Homo sapiens: one gene and its partner. The protein of the gene in region 2 interacts with the protein of the main gene of each other region in a pairwise test. Each region holds a gene or a part of one and is shown on either strand. Other genes may lie near its edges.

Region 1 (3,652 bases), on a different chromosome or scaffold from region 2:
AATGATTTTTTAAAAATCCAGCCAAGTATAAGAAAAAAATTAAATAAGTCCTAATTTTACTACTCAGAGATAATCCCTGATAACACTTTGGTGTCATTTTTATCGAGTCTTTTTCTAAAATACATTTTATTTGAGCTACATAGATTTACAAATATAAACTGTACTATATCGAGAGGTTTGTGTCCTGCTCTTTCATTTAACATGATGCATTTTACCATGTAGTTAAGTTCTATTTTCCCATGATATGGATATAAGATTTTATTTTTCTCTATAGCTTATTTACCTATTTTCACCATAACTTATTTAACTGTCCTTATTATTGATCACTTACTTTGTTTCAGTTGTGATTGTTGTGAAAAGTGTTGCAATAAAAATCTTTACATTTAAGTCTTTGCTTTTCAGAAAGTTTATGTTTTTACTCTCAGTGAATGACAATGCCTGTCAATTCTCATACTCACCAGCATTGAATATTTCCATTTTAAAAATTATTGGTATGGTATGTATGTTAAAGTATCTATCTTTTTTATTTTTATTTATTTACAGACAGGATCTCTCTCAGTTACCCAGGCCGGAGTGCAGTGGCGTGATCCTAGCTCACTGCAGCCTTGAACCCCTGGGCTCAAGTGATTCTCCTGCCTTGGCCTCCTGAATAGCTAGAACTACAGGTATGAACCACCATGCCTGACTCATTAAAAAAAAATTGTAGACATGGGATCTTGCTTTGTTGCCCATGCTGGTCTTAAACTCCTGGCTTCAAGTGATCCTCCCGCCTCTGTCTCCCAAAGTGCTGGGATTACGGATGTGAGCCACTGTGCTCAGCCACTTTTTTATTTTATGGGCTAAGTAATAAACCTTTTTCTGAAACTAATTATATCATTAGAATTGATAGCTTATGGTAATTCTCAAGTTATCAGAACCCTAACAGCAAAATAAAACAATTTTAGATTACATATATGGGAAGGTACTAAGGATATAAATTATTCTTTTAGACTATAGCACATTTAGGGGATGTAAGTAAAAATAACTGATGATAGTCCAGGGCTATAGGAAAATGTATTATAAACCTTGAGATCTATATTCTGGTCTCAATTGTAAACTCATAAAAGGTCTGAGAAAGAAGCACCCATACATTTCTGTTTAAACTGCCTTGTCTCGTGTATAGATTGTGCTTTATTTAACCCTCTTAACTTCCTCAGTGTCTAATAGTGTTAGAATAGCTCTGTAATGTGAACTGTTACTTTTTCCTCCCGCTGGGCTTGTTCTAAGACAGGAAGCTTATTTGAAAGGTAGAAGGAAATGAAGTTCTGGGGCCTGCTTCAAATTTATATTATAAATTATGCTATATTGGCACAATATTTAATCAGGAGTCTAAAACTAATAAGTAGGAATCTGCTTCATGATGGCTGATAAGGTCTGAGGAACCTAAATTATAAATTTTTAATTGACATTTGATTATTTTCTTCCACAAAGTGAAAGTGAAAATCTAGTTGGTCTTTATTACTAAAGTCATCTTTATGGTTATAAGCTATTTCCTCCAACCCTTAAGAGATCAAAATAATTTGTTCCTTTTTCACCCTGTTAGCAAGTTGAAAGGAAATGTTAGAGAGGATTTCAGGTCCTTTCTTTCAGATTTATGATGTTACAAATATAAGTAAAATGTTTCTACAGAATATTTTATTTTAAGTGAATAGTTATTTCTTTCCTGGAGATAATGAATTATCATTCCAGTCCATATTACAATAGTGTGTTCTCCAGTGAACCAGTGCCTCACAGGCCCCCATCAGGCTGTAGACATGAAAACAGACATGAACATAAATTCATGAGCACAGATGGATGAAATACTAGCCTAGTTCAAGGGTGGTGCCAAATAATTCTGGGAAAAGTGCTTTTGGCATAATTGCAAAATAAGACCCAGAGTTTTAATGAAATATCTGGAATAAAACTACAACTACCAGCAACACCAAATGTTCATATGTTGCTTTTAGATTAACAGAATGCTTTCTCATACTTTATTTCATTTAAGCTCTAGAATCCTTCTGGGAGTTAATTGACTTAAGTTTGTATGGAAAAGGAGGCTTAAAGAGGCACTGATTTATCAAAGCCAGGGGGATGCAACTGGGACTTCTTTTGACTCTACTTCCTAAAATGAATTTTTGATCACATTAAACTTTAATAAAAATTTATATGTTTATTGTCATCAGGTGCTTGTCAAAATAAACAGTATTGAGAGCTTACAGGGGTAAAGGGCAATATGTTATGTTCTAGATTCCTCCCTCGAGGGGTATACAGTCTTGTTGGGCAAACGAGATATCTGTAAAAAGATAGCAATAAAATTACCTATAAATCCTACAGTAGATGTGAGAACAATCTCTAGAAGTAGAGGAAGGAGTGAGGAAAATGTTTCAAGTGTATTCTATTTCCAGATGTTATGAAAGGTCCCATTAGATATAGTGAATTCATAAAGTACTGTTTGTTCTGAAATGATACCATCACAGGACTTCAGTACTGGATCATTAGCGGTAAGATCAGCACACCAAAATAAAAGTTCAAATGTTGGGAAATCCTTAGCAAGGTCACAGTAGCAAAACCCTGCCAATCTATTCATCCTTTAAGATTGGCTCGAGGCCCCACACCACAGACCCTCTGTGTACATCACCTGTGCTTGCTCCTGTTTGAACATTTAGCATAAGGTGTTGTGATTGTGTGTGCCCCCGTCTTCTTCTCGCCTCTGGGTGTCATGACAGGGACTGTGTGGCCTCCAGCATGTGTCCTACCTACTAGTGGGTGCTCGATCTATAGCTGTAGGGTTTTTTTGGTTGTTCAAATGAATGTCTTTTTTTCAGTATAATTCCATTGTATTTTGTGTTCTGTCGTCCCTCAGCCTGGTATTCAAGGCCCTGTGCCATCTGTTGCTGTCTGGGTGGCCTCATGTGCCCTTTAGTCTTGGGATAAATCTTTTACGGATCCTCTGCTGCCTTTTCTTTCCTCTACCCTGGAATAGTTTTCCCACTCATCTTTGCCTGTGAATCCTGCCCATCTTTCAGAGTTCAATTTAAGCCCCTCGTTTTCTTGACAACCCCTGTCTGAAGTATGGACACCCTACTTGGAACTCCAGAAGCATGCCTATTGTCCCTAATATCTTTTAGTTAATAAATTATATAGGGCTATGTGGCTTTTCTTCCATTATTATTCTGACTTTTCATTTAACCCTTTAGTGGTGTGTGTGTGTGTGTGTGTGTGTGTGTGTGTGTGTATGTGAGAGAGAGAGAGATGTGGTTTATCATTGCTTGTCAATGATAAAGCAAGTCTTTGAGGCCTAAGACCTAACTTTTGGGATCCCTGTCTCATAGCTGCACAGTGCATTGAGAGTCAGTACCTGCTAAGAGCAGCACTGCTACTCATTCCCTATGTGACTTTGGGCTGGTTATTTGCCTTCTCTGTGCCACAGTTTCCTCATTGGTAAAACTGGGAAAGGAATCATTTCCACCCCAGAGAACTGTTGTGAGTATTAAATGAGTTAATACATGCTAGGTTCATAGCAAGTGTTACTTAAGTGTTATTGTATTGTAGTTGGTAATAATATGATAGTATAATCCACTGATTCCCTGTTGAAGTGCAAATATGTTGTCAAGATGGGGCAACCAAGGTTGTG
Region 2 (3,652 bases):
TTAGGTGCTCAATGAAAATCTCAACAAAAGGAAGAGGAACACAGATGTGGGCAGGTATCAAGCATGTGGGCGGTGCCTATTTCCCTAACAGCTCTCAGAGGACGCACCCTCCTGCCTCCGAGGTTCCAAGGGTTAACAGCCCTCATGGGGCTGGAATGTCTTGTGATAAGATCATTACTTTGCCCTGGATTAAGGAGGGACAGGATCCAACTGCTGTCCTCACAGCTCAGGAGCCAAAGCAGGTGGGGAGGTAGGAGAGGAGCAAAGGAGGGCTAGAGGCAGAGAGGAGAGAGCAGCTAGAGCACCCGTCCTAATAACAAGGGACCAATACATGGGTACCACAGGTGTACTGGGTGCTGAGACTTGGCCTTCTTCACACAAGTCCTCCAGTTTGATGTTAGTGCTCCTGTTAACCAATAAGGAAGCTACAGTTGTGGGCCGGGCGAGGTGACTCACGCCAGCAATCCCAGCACTTTGGGAGGCTGAGGCAGGCAGATCACCTGAATTCGGGAGTTCGAAACCAGCCTGGCCAACATGGTGAAACCCCATCTCTACTAAAAATAGAAAAATTAGCTGAGCACACTGGCACGCGCCTGTAGTCCCAGCTACTCAGGAGGCTGAGGCAAGAGAGTCACTTGAGTATGGGAGGTGGGGGCTGCAGTGAGCTGAGATCACACCACTGCACTCCATCCTAGGAGACAGAGTGAGACCCTGTCTCAAAAATAAGAAAGCTAAATTTGTGAACAGTTAAGATACTTGTGGATAGTCGCACAGCTAGAAGATAACAGAGCTAGGATTCAAACACAGCTCCAAAGCCCACGAAAGCCTAATTCTACATGATATAAGTGAGAAGTCAGGCTTTAAGCCATGCAGAGACATGCCCAAGGCCAACTGGTCACTCAGTGGCAGGGTCAGGCTAAGAACCCCGGTGTTCCGATTTCCTGTCTCCCTTGAGCTCCATGGGCCCCACCACACACACAAACAGCCTCTCTCACCCCACCTTCCTCTAGCATGCACCTGGCTGCCTTTGCCTCCCTTCCCAGAGGCTGCCCCTTCTTTCTCTAGACCCTGGACCCTGCATAAGATGCAATAAACATGGCTACAGTCACGTTAAGGGCAGAGGCTCGCTGGGGTAAGTGGCAGGGCTGAAGCAGGTGGAGAGGGAGCAACCTCACATCCCGCCTGCAGTCTGGATTCTGTCCCAATCACACACTAAAGAAGAGCCCTTGTCAAGGTTACCAGCAACCTCCACGTTGCCAAACCCAAAGGCCTCTTGCCAGTACTCACCTCGCGTGGCCCATCTGCCGCTGCCCACGCCGCTGACGGCTTCTTCCTGGTGGAACCACTGCCCCCCTCTGTCATGCAGTCTGCTCTGGTTCTCCTCCCACCTCTCTGACCGTTCCTTCTCAGGCTCCTTTGCATGCCCTTCTTCATTCCTCAGGGCTCTGTCCTCAACCCATCCTTTTCTCTTTCTGTACACTGTCTCTGGACAGTATTGACAACTACCACCTGTGTTGTGATGAACTTCAACTTTTTCCTTCCAGACCAAGCCTCTCCTGAGCTCCAGCCCCTTGCATGTGTTTAACTATCTCCTGGATTTCCCCACAGGCATCTCACCTCTCACCCTGTGCTGGGCCCCGTGCTCCAGAACAGCTCATCGGCGCTTTGCCCACATCTTCTGCTGGCAGAGTCTCCCTGATTCTGTCTTCCACAGCCCTCTCAAACATGTGCTTTCTTCTCCAACCCCAAACCAGTCATCACCTTCTCTCTGTCCCAGATCAAAAACAGCCTCTTAACTGGTTCCCTCTTGCCAGCCTTGCCTGTTCTGCTTATGCTCCACACTGCACCCAAAATTACCTTTAAAACCCAAATCTGATCATGTCACTCCCCTGCTTGCCAGCCTTCAACATCACCCACTGCCCTCTGGATTCATTATCAGAGCCCGATCATCAAGTTTCTCTTCAATCTCTCTCTCTCTTTTTTTTTTTTTTTCTTTTTTTTTTTTGAGACAGAGTTTCGCTCCTGTCACCCAGGCTGGAGTGCAATGGTGTGATCTCAGCTCACTGCAACCTCCGCCTCCTGGGCTCAAGTGATTCTCCTGCCTCAGCCTCCTGAATAACTGAGATTACAGGCGTCCGCCACCATGCCCAGCTAATTTTTGTATTTTTAGTAGAGACGGGGTTTCACCATGTTGGCCAGGCTGGTTTCGAACTCTTGACCTCAGGTGATCCACCTGCCTAAGCCTCCCAAAGTGCTGGAATTACAGGCATGAGCCACCGCACCTGGGCCTCTTCAATCTCTTTATCCTGGGTTTCCCTTCTCCCCATTTCCAGCCGTGCCCCGGATACCCCAGTGCATGGTTTCATTTGACCCCCACATATTATGAGCCCTTTCTGTCCAAAAAGGCTTGATGAGAAAGCCCCCCCTCCTTACTTTCCTCTGCTGCTTCCCCAGGCTCCCAGCTCAGAGGCAAGGAATGGACAATGTGACCCATGGGGTCAGCATGGGGAGGGGGTCATGGACGGCCCTGGCGGAGCCCCACCCACTTCGTGCTGCCCACCCACTCACCATCATGACATATGTGCTCATGAACTCGGCCAGGAACTCTCGCACCATCTTCCTCTGCAGTATTTCCTGGATCTTTGCTATCACGGACCAGGAGACCATTTTGGAGCCACGGGTGGACCTAAGACAGTGGCCCGAGCCCATGGACAGAAAGGAGACTCAAGTCTGCCTGCTGCCCATCGGCTCTTCAACTCCCAGCTGAGTTAATAGGTAACCCAGCAGCCTCGCCCACACACGCCTCCTCTTGCGCAGGGCAGCTGGGACAGCTGGAATTGGAGACACTTGAGAGCCACGGGGACATGGAGAGGAACTGGGGTAGATGGCCAGGCCATGCCCCTTCTAGTTGGGACTGGACCAGTAAAAATGGCACACCAATGAGGCCACTTTGCAGATGGGCGGGTGGGGAGCTGAAAGTGCAATCCACGGTGCCAACAAGCCTCTGGAAAAAAGCAGGGTGGGAGAGAGCAGGCTGGAAAGTGGAGCTCAGTTGTCTATGTCTGTCCGTCTGTCCGTCTGCCTATCTGCTAGAGCCAGAACTTTGGGGTCACAGGCCAGGGCCTGGCAACAGTGAGGCACTCTACAAACAGCATGAGGTGTGACAAAGTCTGCTGCCGAGCTCTATAAACAGCACTGAGCGCTGAAACAAGCGCCAGGTTCTGTCAAAAATGAAGGGGTCAGCAAAATGCACCAGGCTGTGCAACCAGGTCAGTGCAAACAGAGGTTTGTGAGAGAGTGAGTGAATGAATGAATGACCAAGAGAGAGGGAGGGAGAAAAGGAAGGACTGGATCTACTTCCTGGTGTATCTTCAGTGCCCAGCACCACGCCAGGCACATAGTAGATGTGCAATAAGTATTTGTTGAATGAGTGAAAACTGGGGAATCTGTCTTACTCCCAACTAGATCCTCAGAGCTTCCCAAAGGGCCTGGCACTTGATTTATATTGAGTTAAGTGCACGGTTAGATGGAAAGGTAGATGAAACAGGTGAGTAACAGGGCCCAAATCTGCATATAGAGAGAGGTATAGGACTGGAGTTTGGGGAAGGTGGCGGGGTGGGCCTGGAGGATAAAGAGGAAGAAGAGGGGCTGG

Evidence for each region. Proteins that work in one complex are often made in the same cells at the same time.
Region 1: the proteins of AQP7 (region 2) and MFSD6 interact in a two-hybrid assay, tested with the Homo sapiens proteins (one large-scale study listed by BioGRID).

What each region holds. Positions count from the first base shown.
Region 1 is NC_000002.12:190,414,749-190,418,400, forward strand, and holds part of MFSD6 (major facilitator superfamily domain-containing protein 6), read left to right. Parts: intron 1-543; 5' UTR 544-665; intron 666-3,652.
Region 2 is NC_000009.12:33,392,510-33,396,161, forward strand, and holds part of AQP7 (aquaporin-7), read right to left. Parts: intron 3,005-3,652; exon of another isoform or gene 2,710-3,004; coding exon of another isoform or gene 2,687-2,709; coding exon 2,569-2,686; intron 1,769-2,568; exon of another isoform or gene 1,618-1,768; intron 1-1,617. UniProt on the Homo sapiens protein: Aquaglyceroporins form homotetrameric transmembrane channels, with each monomer independently mediating glycerol and water transport across the plasma membrane along their osmotic gradient. Could also be permeable to urea.